Linked DNA regions of Homo sapiens: region 2 is linked to region 1. The links come from fine-mapping of genetic effects on gene expression. A gene starts in region 1. The other region holds a variant in brackets. All regions are shown on one strand. Distances are between the middles of the regions. Region 1 holds the start of RAB37-AS1 (RAB37 antisense RNA 1). Region 2 has its middle 25 kb from the start of CD300E.

What was found. PIP is the estimated chance that this variant, and not a neighbour inherited with it, causes the effect. A credible set is the group of variants that fine-mapping cannot tell apart.
Region 2: its variant is the best candidate, but not a certain one, in a credible set for the expression of RAB37-AS1 in whole blood (INTERVAL, PIP 0.63).

Annotation. Positions count from the first base shown.
Region 1 is chr17:74,674,915-74,679,303 of GRCh38, forward strand. It overlaps RAB37-AS1 (RAB37 antisense RNA 1), which reads right to left and starts at 2,696. Exons shown (of 2, transcript XR_007065904.1): 1 at 2,435-2,696; 2 at 1-1,554. It also overlaps a transcript of RAB37 not described here.
Region 2 is chr17:74,646,794-74,651,182 of GRCh38, forward strand. No RefSeq gene overlaps it. Among named protein-coding and RNA genes, the nearest start is that of CD300E, 25 kb to the left of the region's middle. The variant T/C (reference allele first, on the strand shown) is at 2,374.

The sequences.
Region 1 (4,389 bases):
ATGTAGGGTAGTCCTAGAAACTTGCCAGAGAAGAGATATTGTCGTATGATGAAACGAAACTCCAGGCTTGGAATAAGCCAAACCTTGATGTGACTTTGAGCAACATCTGTGAGTCTTAATTTTCTTAGCTATAAAATAGGAATGATAATACCTGCCTTATTATTTTTGAGCAAGGATGTTAGCGAATATAATGTAACGCGTATATATAAAATCTCTGGAATATAGGAAGCATTCAATAAAAGTGGTTGTATTGGCTGGGCGCAGTGGCTCCCAGCACTTTGGGAGGCCAAGGAGGATGAATCATGAGGTCAGGAGATCGAGACCATCCTGGCCAACATGGTGAAACCCCATTTCTACTAAAAATACAAAAATTAGCCGGGGGTGGTGGCATGCACCTGCAGTCCCAGCTACTCAGGAGGCTGAGGCAGGAGAATCGCTTTAACCTGGGAGGCAGAGGTTGCAGTGAACCAAGATCACACCACTGCACTTCAGCCTGGTGACAGAGTGAGACTCCATCCGAAAAAAAAAAAAAAGTGGTTGTATTAGGGCATGCATCTTGGGCTCCAAAGCAGCTTCAATGGGTGTCACATTCAGTCTCACCTAAAATGATGAGCTTTGTGAGAAGAGCAGCAGCTTCATACAAGAGAATCTCAGAAACACACACACTACCTATTTCACAGGCAGAAGTCCATGGAAATAAACTCACACAACCCATCTATACAAAAAGCGTGACTTCTATGCAAACATCCCAGTTCTGACTTCCTAAGTTGAGTATCTTTTTTCTCTTGGAGGTGGTGTATGGGACTTGATGAAATTCATTTATATGAAAAACATACGCCAAATATCATGATAGGCATTGTGTAGCTCTTGCACTTTAGCTGGTCCCAATAGTTGGAGGCTGACCCAGGCAAGCCCAAGTAACTCTTAGAAGATTCCCGTAGGGTGGGCTGGAAGCTGGGAACTGACTGAAAACATTGAGCTCATCCATCATGTGCCTGGAGTTTTTAAATAGAGTTGTTGTTGCCACAAATCTGAAAATTTGGTGCAGCTAAATAATTTAAAACAAAGGAGCAACCTGGCTGCTCTTTTCCTTAGAGAACTCTCAGTTCTCTCTTGCCACCAGCTTCAAGAGCCATCCAGGGCAATGGTCTGGGGTAGGGGTTCAGGAACAGCCCACGGATTGGGTCCCTACTGTGCCAGGGTCTGACCTTGAGCTCCCAGAAAATGAAAAGATTTTCATTTCATTTTCACAGAGAGGGCAAGCTTTTGCCCCAGATACCAGTGAATTAGGACAAAAGGGCTTCAGTTCAAGCACTTACTTCCTAATTCCCTATCACCAGGGCTCTAAGGAACATCCACATACCAGACTAGCTTCCAGAGGGACGAACAATTCCTAGGACAAAGTCAGTCTCAGAAAGACTGGGGGTGGGGGGCAGAAAAACGTGAGCTGCTCATCCATTCATCCAGGGCTTGGTTCTTCTTGGGTGAAAAGGGATTACCAGGTCTCTGTCTTCCAAAGTATGTCCATTTCCTCCGACTGCTCTAACACCTCTTCTGGGTGAAAGGAAAAGGCAAGCAGGTAATATCTGCCACTCTCCCCCATCTCCTGCACTTATTCTTCACTTCCTTCTTCTATTACCCATCTTGTAATTTCTGTGTCCCTCAAAAGTCCGCATGCCTCATCGATTCATTCAGCAAACATGCATTGGACATTTCCAAAGCGTAAAGAACTAGGCTGGTCATTGTCGAGAATATAGACGCAAATGATTCCCACCTTCACTAAGCCTGTGGCCTAGAAGGCATGCACACAAATGGCTATACTTTTATATAATTCCAGAAGTGTCCTAAGAAAGATACGGGTAGCTGCAAGGGAGTGACCCAGGAAGAAAAGGTCATGTCTGACTGAATTTGAAATGTCCTCTCTCACTTATGGCTTCTGATTAAAGTTAACCTCCAGGCTTGGCACGGTGGCTCACACCTGTAATCCCAGCACTTTGGGAGGCTGAGGCAGGTGGATCATGAGGTCAGGAATTCGAGACCAGCTTGGCCAACATGGTGAAACTCGTCTCTACTAAAAATACAAAAATTAGTCAGCCGTGGTGGTGCACGCCTGAAATCCCAGCTACTCAGGAGGCAGAGGCAGGAGAATCGCTTGAACCCAGGAAGCAGAAGTTGCAGTGAGCTGAGATCACACCATTGCACTCCAGCCTGGGTGACAGAGTGAGACTCTGTCCCCCCACAAAAAAAATTAAAATTAAAAAATAAAAAATAAAGTTAACATCCATGAGAGACAGAGTTCCACACATCAGCTAGCTCCCTCCCCATGGGACTGTCACCTATTAATCCTAGGGAAAGGTCTGGATACAACAGTGTTCTCCTTCCCTGCCAGAAAATTGTACAAGAGAAAGACAAATAAAACAGCAAAAGACCATACTCGCCATTCTGTGTTCCTCTCTCATTCTCTATCCCACAGGTGCTTCTTTTATTTTTTTTTCGATGAAACAATGATAATGATAATGGTATGCAAATTTGTCCTCAAAAGAATCCAAATTAGCAGAAAAATCCATGCCCTGTAAGTGAAGAGAGTTTTGTTTTCAAAGCGCACTAGTTCCAATTCTCAAAGATTTCTATTGTCAGCTCAGGAACAAACAAGAAAGCCAAGAAAAGCTAGCTGCTCCCTGTATAATATTTCCACTGGCTTGTTTTCCTCTCTTGCTTGCTCTGAAGGCTTACAGATAAACAAATGAAGTGTATATTACATCACTGGCAATCTGGTGCCGTCTGGGACTCCTTTGGCTGATAGGTCGGTCCTGCCCAGATCCCAGAGCAGGCAGCTGGTGTGGGGAGTGGTGGTGCCTGCTAGTTCTCTTAGGATAACCTCAGCAGGAAATGATGGTGACTCAGTCCAGCGCCTCAAAGTCGTTTTCCAAACTCTCCAGGCTTTCCTCTCCTAAGCATCCTTTCCTTTAATTTGTGGTCCCTGGGGCCTTTTGTGAGAAAATGTCTGAGACTCACTTGTGTTGCTGCCCTAATGTTTCCTCTTATAAGCTGTTCTAGGGAGGGACGTCCTTCAGTTTCAGGGCAGGAAACTCCGCCTTACTGGGTGGAAGTAAACAGCCAGAGGTGAGCACCAGGCTGGAGAATTGTTGAAGTGGGCATTTGAAGTGGCTCTAAATTTATCCCAATACCCTTCTTGCTTCCTTCCTCCTCTTCTCAGGCAAGAGAAACAGTCTGTAGAGACTGCGAGTGCGAATGGAGATCACAGCTCCTTGTTAACTCACTCAGGCAATGTAGTTCCCAGCTGGGAGTGGCCCTGGACATCCTCCTATCTCTTAACCAGAGGAGGTTTTCTGGGGCCAAGAGAGACAGCTCCAAGCAAACAGATCTGGAAAATATTAACCCCTAACTGATGACACCAGGCCTCACCCTGCTCCTAAAGGGAGCAAGGCCTTGAGTGGTGCAGTGAAAATAACTTGAGACGTGCAGGGCTCAAGAATTCTCCCAGCACATGGTTCCTGACCTTGATTTCTAAGTCAGCTCCCTCCCTTCTCATTTGCTTATCAGCGCCTTTTCATTTGCTTATTAGCACCTTCTCATTTGCTTATTAGCAGACAGTTTCTACCCATCAACATGAGGATGCTATTTAATCATTTGTGCTTTTGCAAATGCACATGCTTTTAGGTATCTGAAACCAAGCTGTGCTTAAGTTCAAATTTTCTCTTACTTGCTAGCCTTCTGCCCCTGGCCACCACACACACAGACACACAGACACACACACACACACACACACACATGCCTGCACATGCACACATACGCACCCTTCCTCTCATGAGCTGTGGGCAGGGCCAGTGATCATCCGTTTTTGTTCTCTGTCTCCCCTTAGCTTTTGTTATGAGCCTTTTAAAAGCAAAGCAGGCTGGGTGCAGTGGCTTAGTCCTGTAATCCCAGCACTTTGGGAGTCCAAGGCAGGCAGATCACCTGAGGTCAGGAGTTCAAGATCAGCCTGGCCAGCATGAGGAAACTCTGTCTCTAGTAAAAATACAAAAATTAGCTGGGCGTGGTGGCAGGCGCCTGTAACCCCAGCTACTTGGGAGGCTGAGGCAGGAGAATCACTTGAACCCGGAAGGCTGAGGTTGCAGTGAGCCGAGATCGCACCACTGCACTCCAGCCTGGGCAACAAAGCAAGACTCTGTCTCAAAAAAAAAAAAAAAGGCAAAGTAAACATTTCTCCTCCTCTTCTTCCTCCCTCGCCTGTTTGAATTTTGCATTCATACCCTCTCCCAGCAACTCTGTTTATTAAAAATCGGAACTGTCATTTATTAGAGCAGTACCCCTAGGGGAGAGTCAGGAACTGGTAACACCTTCCCCAAGCTCACAGTGAGAAGCAGT
Region 2 (4,389 bases), 28 kb before region 1:
GCACTTTGGGAGGCCGAGGTGGGTGGATCACAAGGTCGGGAGTTTGAGACCAGCCTGGCCAATATGTGAAACCCTGTCTCTACTAAAAATACAAAAATTAGCTGGGCATGGTGGCAGGCACCTGTAGTCCCAGCTACTCAGGAGACTGAGGCAGGAGAATCGCGTGAACCTGTGAGGTGGCAGTTGCAGTGAGCCAAGATCACACCACTGCACTCCAGCCTGAGCAACAGAGAGAGACTCTGTCACAAAAGAAAAAGAAAAAGAACAAGAGCAGGGCAGTGTGACATTTGCTACCCAGGTTCAGGTCCAGGGTCTGCCAGCCATGGCCAGAGACATAATAATTGCTAAGAATTACTGAGTTTACTTTGTTTCAGAGACCACTTTAGATGCTTTCTGTTATTACTTTGCTTAAATCCCGTGCAAGTCAAACAAAGTAGGTATTATTATTATTATCCAGATGCATAAACTGTATGGCACAATCACACATCCCTGGGTCCTCCCAGGAGGGCCACCACACTCTGAAACTCCAGTCTTTTCTATTTTTCAGAGACGGAGTCTCACTCTGTCGCCCAGGCTGGAGTGCAGTGGTGCAATCTCAGCTCACTGCGATCTTCACCTCCCAGGTTCAAGCGATTCTCCTGCCTCAGCCTCCCAAGTAGCTGGGATTACAGGTGCCCACAACCATGCCCAGTTGATGTGTGTGTGTGTGTGTGTGTGTGTGTGTGTGTGTGTTTAGTAGAGATGGAGTTTTGCCATGTTGGCCAAGCTGATCTCGAATTCCTGACCTCAGGTGATCAGCCTGCCTTGGCCTCCCAAAGTGCTGGGGTTACAGGCATGAGCCACCGCACCTGGCCTGAAACTCCTTTCCAAACCTAAGTTTAGATTTCCAATGCCACTGAAATCTCACCTAAATTCAGGGCAATCAGAGGGAGAAGCTTCTACACACCCCAAATCTCAGGCTGTCTCTCCATCTCCTTCCCTTGGTCAAGTGGCAACCTCCCAAGGACGGCCACAAGGCACCCAGAGCCCAGCTGCAGAGTCCACTGGCTCTGTGGGAGTCCTGGAGATAAAGGACACCACCGTCCCCTCTCAGATGCCCCAAGCTAAATGGACCCAGCAAAGCCTGGCCCAGCAGCTCCAACTGCTGTCTGTGGGGAAGCTGGCTGAAAGAGCTCCGGGGCAGGCTCCGTGTCTTATCTGTCCTGCAAATCCAGAGCTGTGGGTGCCAGGAGCCAAAGCCTCATTTCTGAGCCTGGTTTGTGTCCTAGCTTAGCCCAGATCCTAAAAGTCAGGAGATGAAGGAATGGCCATCATTCTTCTTGACTCAACTGCATGTTTGAGAACTAAGATGCCAGGACTCACAGTGACAGGAGAGGCAGTGCAGTCCCCCAGTGCATAGCAGCTGCACCCTGAGGCTGGTGTGTCTGAGCAAAGCCAATGCAGAGCTGCGGGCCCTACAGATCCCATGGGGAAGGAGGGAGAGGGGAGGGCAGGGGAGGGTAGCAGCTGAGGAGGGTTCTCACTGCCTCGCCTGAAGCTGAAACCTAGCATCCAGTGGGTGATAGTGCCTGGCACGTTGCATTTCCCAGGGATGGAAAAATGTACTTTTGTCCCCTCCAATCAGTTGGAGGTGTGCCTGGAAAAGTGAGTTGAGAAGGATGGGGCTGAGCTTGGGCCTCCTGGGCTATCACAGCCACTGAGTACTGAGTGAAGAGTGATGGCTGATGAGAGAGGGAAGCGAGGGTGGGTGTGCGTGTGCCAGGCTTTCACAGCTCCAGAGCTGAGCTGCTCCAGAGCTCATATCGATAGAGACAGAATAACTTCATCCACAGGATTCTGCCTGCTGAGAATCAGAAACAAGTTCCCTCTTCCTGGCCAGCCATGCCAAGAGCCCTCAGCTAGACCCGTCAGGATTCTAGGTCCCTAAGGGGCACGGAGCCTCCATGGACTGTCCTGTTTGTGGTTTTAGCCTCTGGGAACAGTTGGCTCCCATCTGACCCAGCAGCAGCCAGAAAACATCACCACACTTGATCCAAGAACCCACCGTTGGGGCCACCAGGCAACCAAGCCACCAGGCTGAAGTTGCAGGCAGCCCCTAGCCCTCTCTCCTCACCTCTCCGTCACCCTCTTCCTCCTCCTTTCCTGCCATTCGCCATCTATCAAAATAAAAACTCAAATTTTAAGGACAAATCCTAGAAAATGAGTGAATACAGAACATCAGGGAAGAGGAATGTAGCATTAGTTTTATCCCTTAGGCCTTGAGCATTGATGAGTTTAAAGAAGGAAAAATCAAGAAGGAAACTTGAGTGAAGAGAGGCAACGAATGGGGGAAAAGCTGGGCAAGATGTTAGAAGGACCGGATTCTAGTCCCAG[T/C]TCACCACTCACCTGGGGCACCAGACGTCACTGTTCTCACCTGAGGTCCTGGTTGTGCATAGGGTTGTCTCTGGGCATTGGAGGGGAGAACCAGGGAGCCGGCCCCCAGGACCACCCCTGCATCACTTAATGCAGCTTCCAGATTACATTTTATTTTTAGTAGAGACGGGGCTTCACCATGTTGGCCAGGCTAGTTTTGAACTCCTGGCCTCAAGTGAAACACACACCTCAGCCTCCCAAAGTGCTGGGATTACAGGCGTGAGCCACTGTGCCTGGCCTCCAGATTACGTTTTATTTCAACAAGAGTTTCTGCAACCAAAAAAATTAGAGTATTAAATATTTTCTACAAAGAGTATATACGACCTGTAAGTTATAAAGAATAATAAAATGCACACCTATGTGCCCCCACCCAGCTTAAGAAAGAGAATAACTTTAATTTTTTTATTTATTTTTTGTTTCCTGATTCAAATGTAACATATATTGACTATAGAAATTTTGCAAGATCCGGAAGAGAGAAAACAAGTATCACCACAACTTCATTATCTTTTTGCAAACATTCTGGTGACAATTCTTTCCTGTTTATCCTGGGTGTGTATCTTTTTTCTGAAATTGAGATCCTATGGTGCAAATTGTCCCCTTTTTTCCATCATGGCCATCTTCCTTGGATCAGCTAATTTCTTGGCACCCTTTCACCTCCAAGATTTCAAGTTAAAAACCCCCGGATTTTTTGTGGGAGTGGGATTCAGAGTTGATTTTCCAAAAAGAAGCAGTAGTAGGAATTGACAGATTGGGGAAAATCTGTCCTGTCTGGCTTCTACCTGAAACATACACTACATTAAGAGGTTGATAAAGTGCATCCTGTCATATCTCGCCCAGAGCGGTATCTCAGGATTAATGTTGATTGATGTTTGTGTCTCATGAGGCTGAAAGCATGAGGCATCTCTGGAGATAAGAAGGAAAATGAAAGCCAGTGCTTTCAGGATTAAAAAAAAATGCCTTAGAAGGCTTCCCTGCAGCTCCAAGCCAAGCACCGGGGCCTGTGATAGATTCTCAGTACACACTGCGTGCCTGTATCTCATCGTTGTGCCTGTTCAGTCATCATTTATCCAGAGGATAAGGCACGGTTCTATAAACCTACCTAGAACACACTCAGGCAAAAGGGGACATACATTAGAGGAATACGAGGCTATCACCCATCATTCAAAGAAAATCCATGGGAAAGGCAAGGATCCTGTTGGGTGTCGGGGTCAACTGGAACCGGGCAATCAAACAGCCCCTGGGTTCTCTCTTCCTTGTCCTCTCTGGGCTCTATTCTCTCACCCTAGAGACAGCTTTCTCCAGGAGGAGGGAAAATGGCCACTGACACCTCTCACGTTTTCCATCTTAGGAGTTTTATTCCCAGAGAAAGCCTTACTTCCTTCCTTAGCCTCAGTTAAAAGTAAAAAGAAACCCTGCCTGGGAAGAACTGAGATTGGCCTGACTTTCATCAAGTGCCCAATCCTGGACCATTCCATTGTGTCCAGGGTCACTGAAAGTGGCAGCACACCCCACTGAATTGCAGCCATGCAGTTAGGGGATATCTGAGCCTAAGAGCAGTCGCTGATCCTAAGCAGGAGTTGAAATCATGAAAGTGGCTGCAAATCACCCAGTGAGTGTATAGAAGGAAAAGAAGAAAGCAGGGCAGAACACTGGGCGTAAACACAATTTAAAGAATGGAAAGAAGACAAGGAATCCAGGAAGAAAAGTGAAAATGGCTATAAAAAAAAGCAAATAGGTGGAAAATCCAGACAGCACAGAGCCACAGGAGCCAAGAAGGCTGGAGTTTGGAGGAGGACGGAGTACCCACCAGCATGGAAGTCCAGGAAAACATGCAAAGGAGAATGGCCCTGGGGTCTGGAAGCAGGAGGGGCACTGGTGATCTCTGCAAATGCCATTTCCGTGGAGGGTGGGAGTGGAAGCCAGGTGAAGACCAGCAAATACAACCTGAGGGTAGTTCTTGAGGAAAATAGTTAGGGA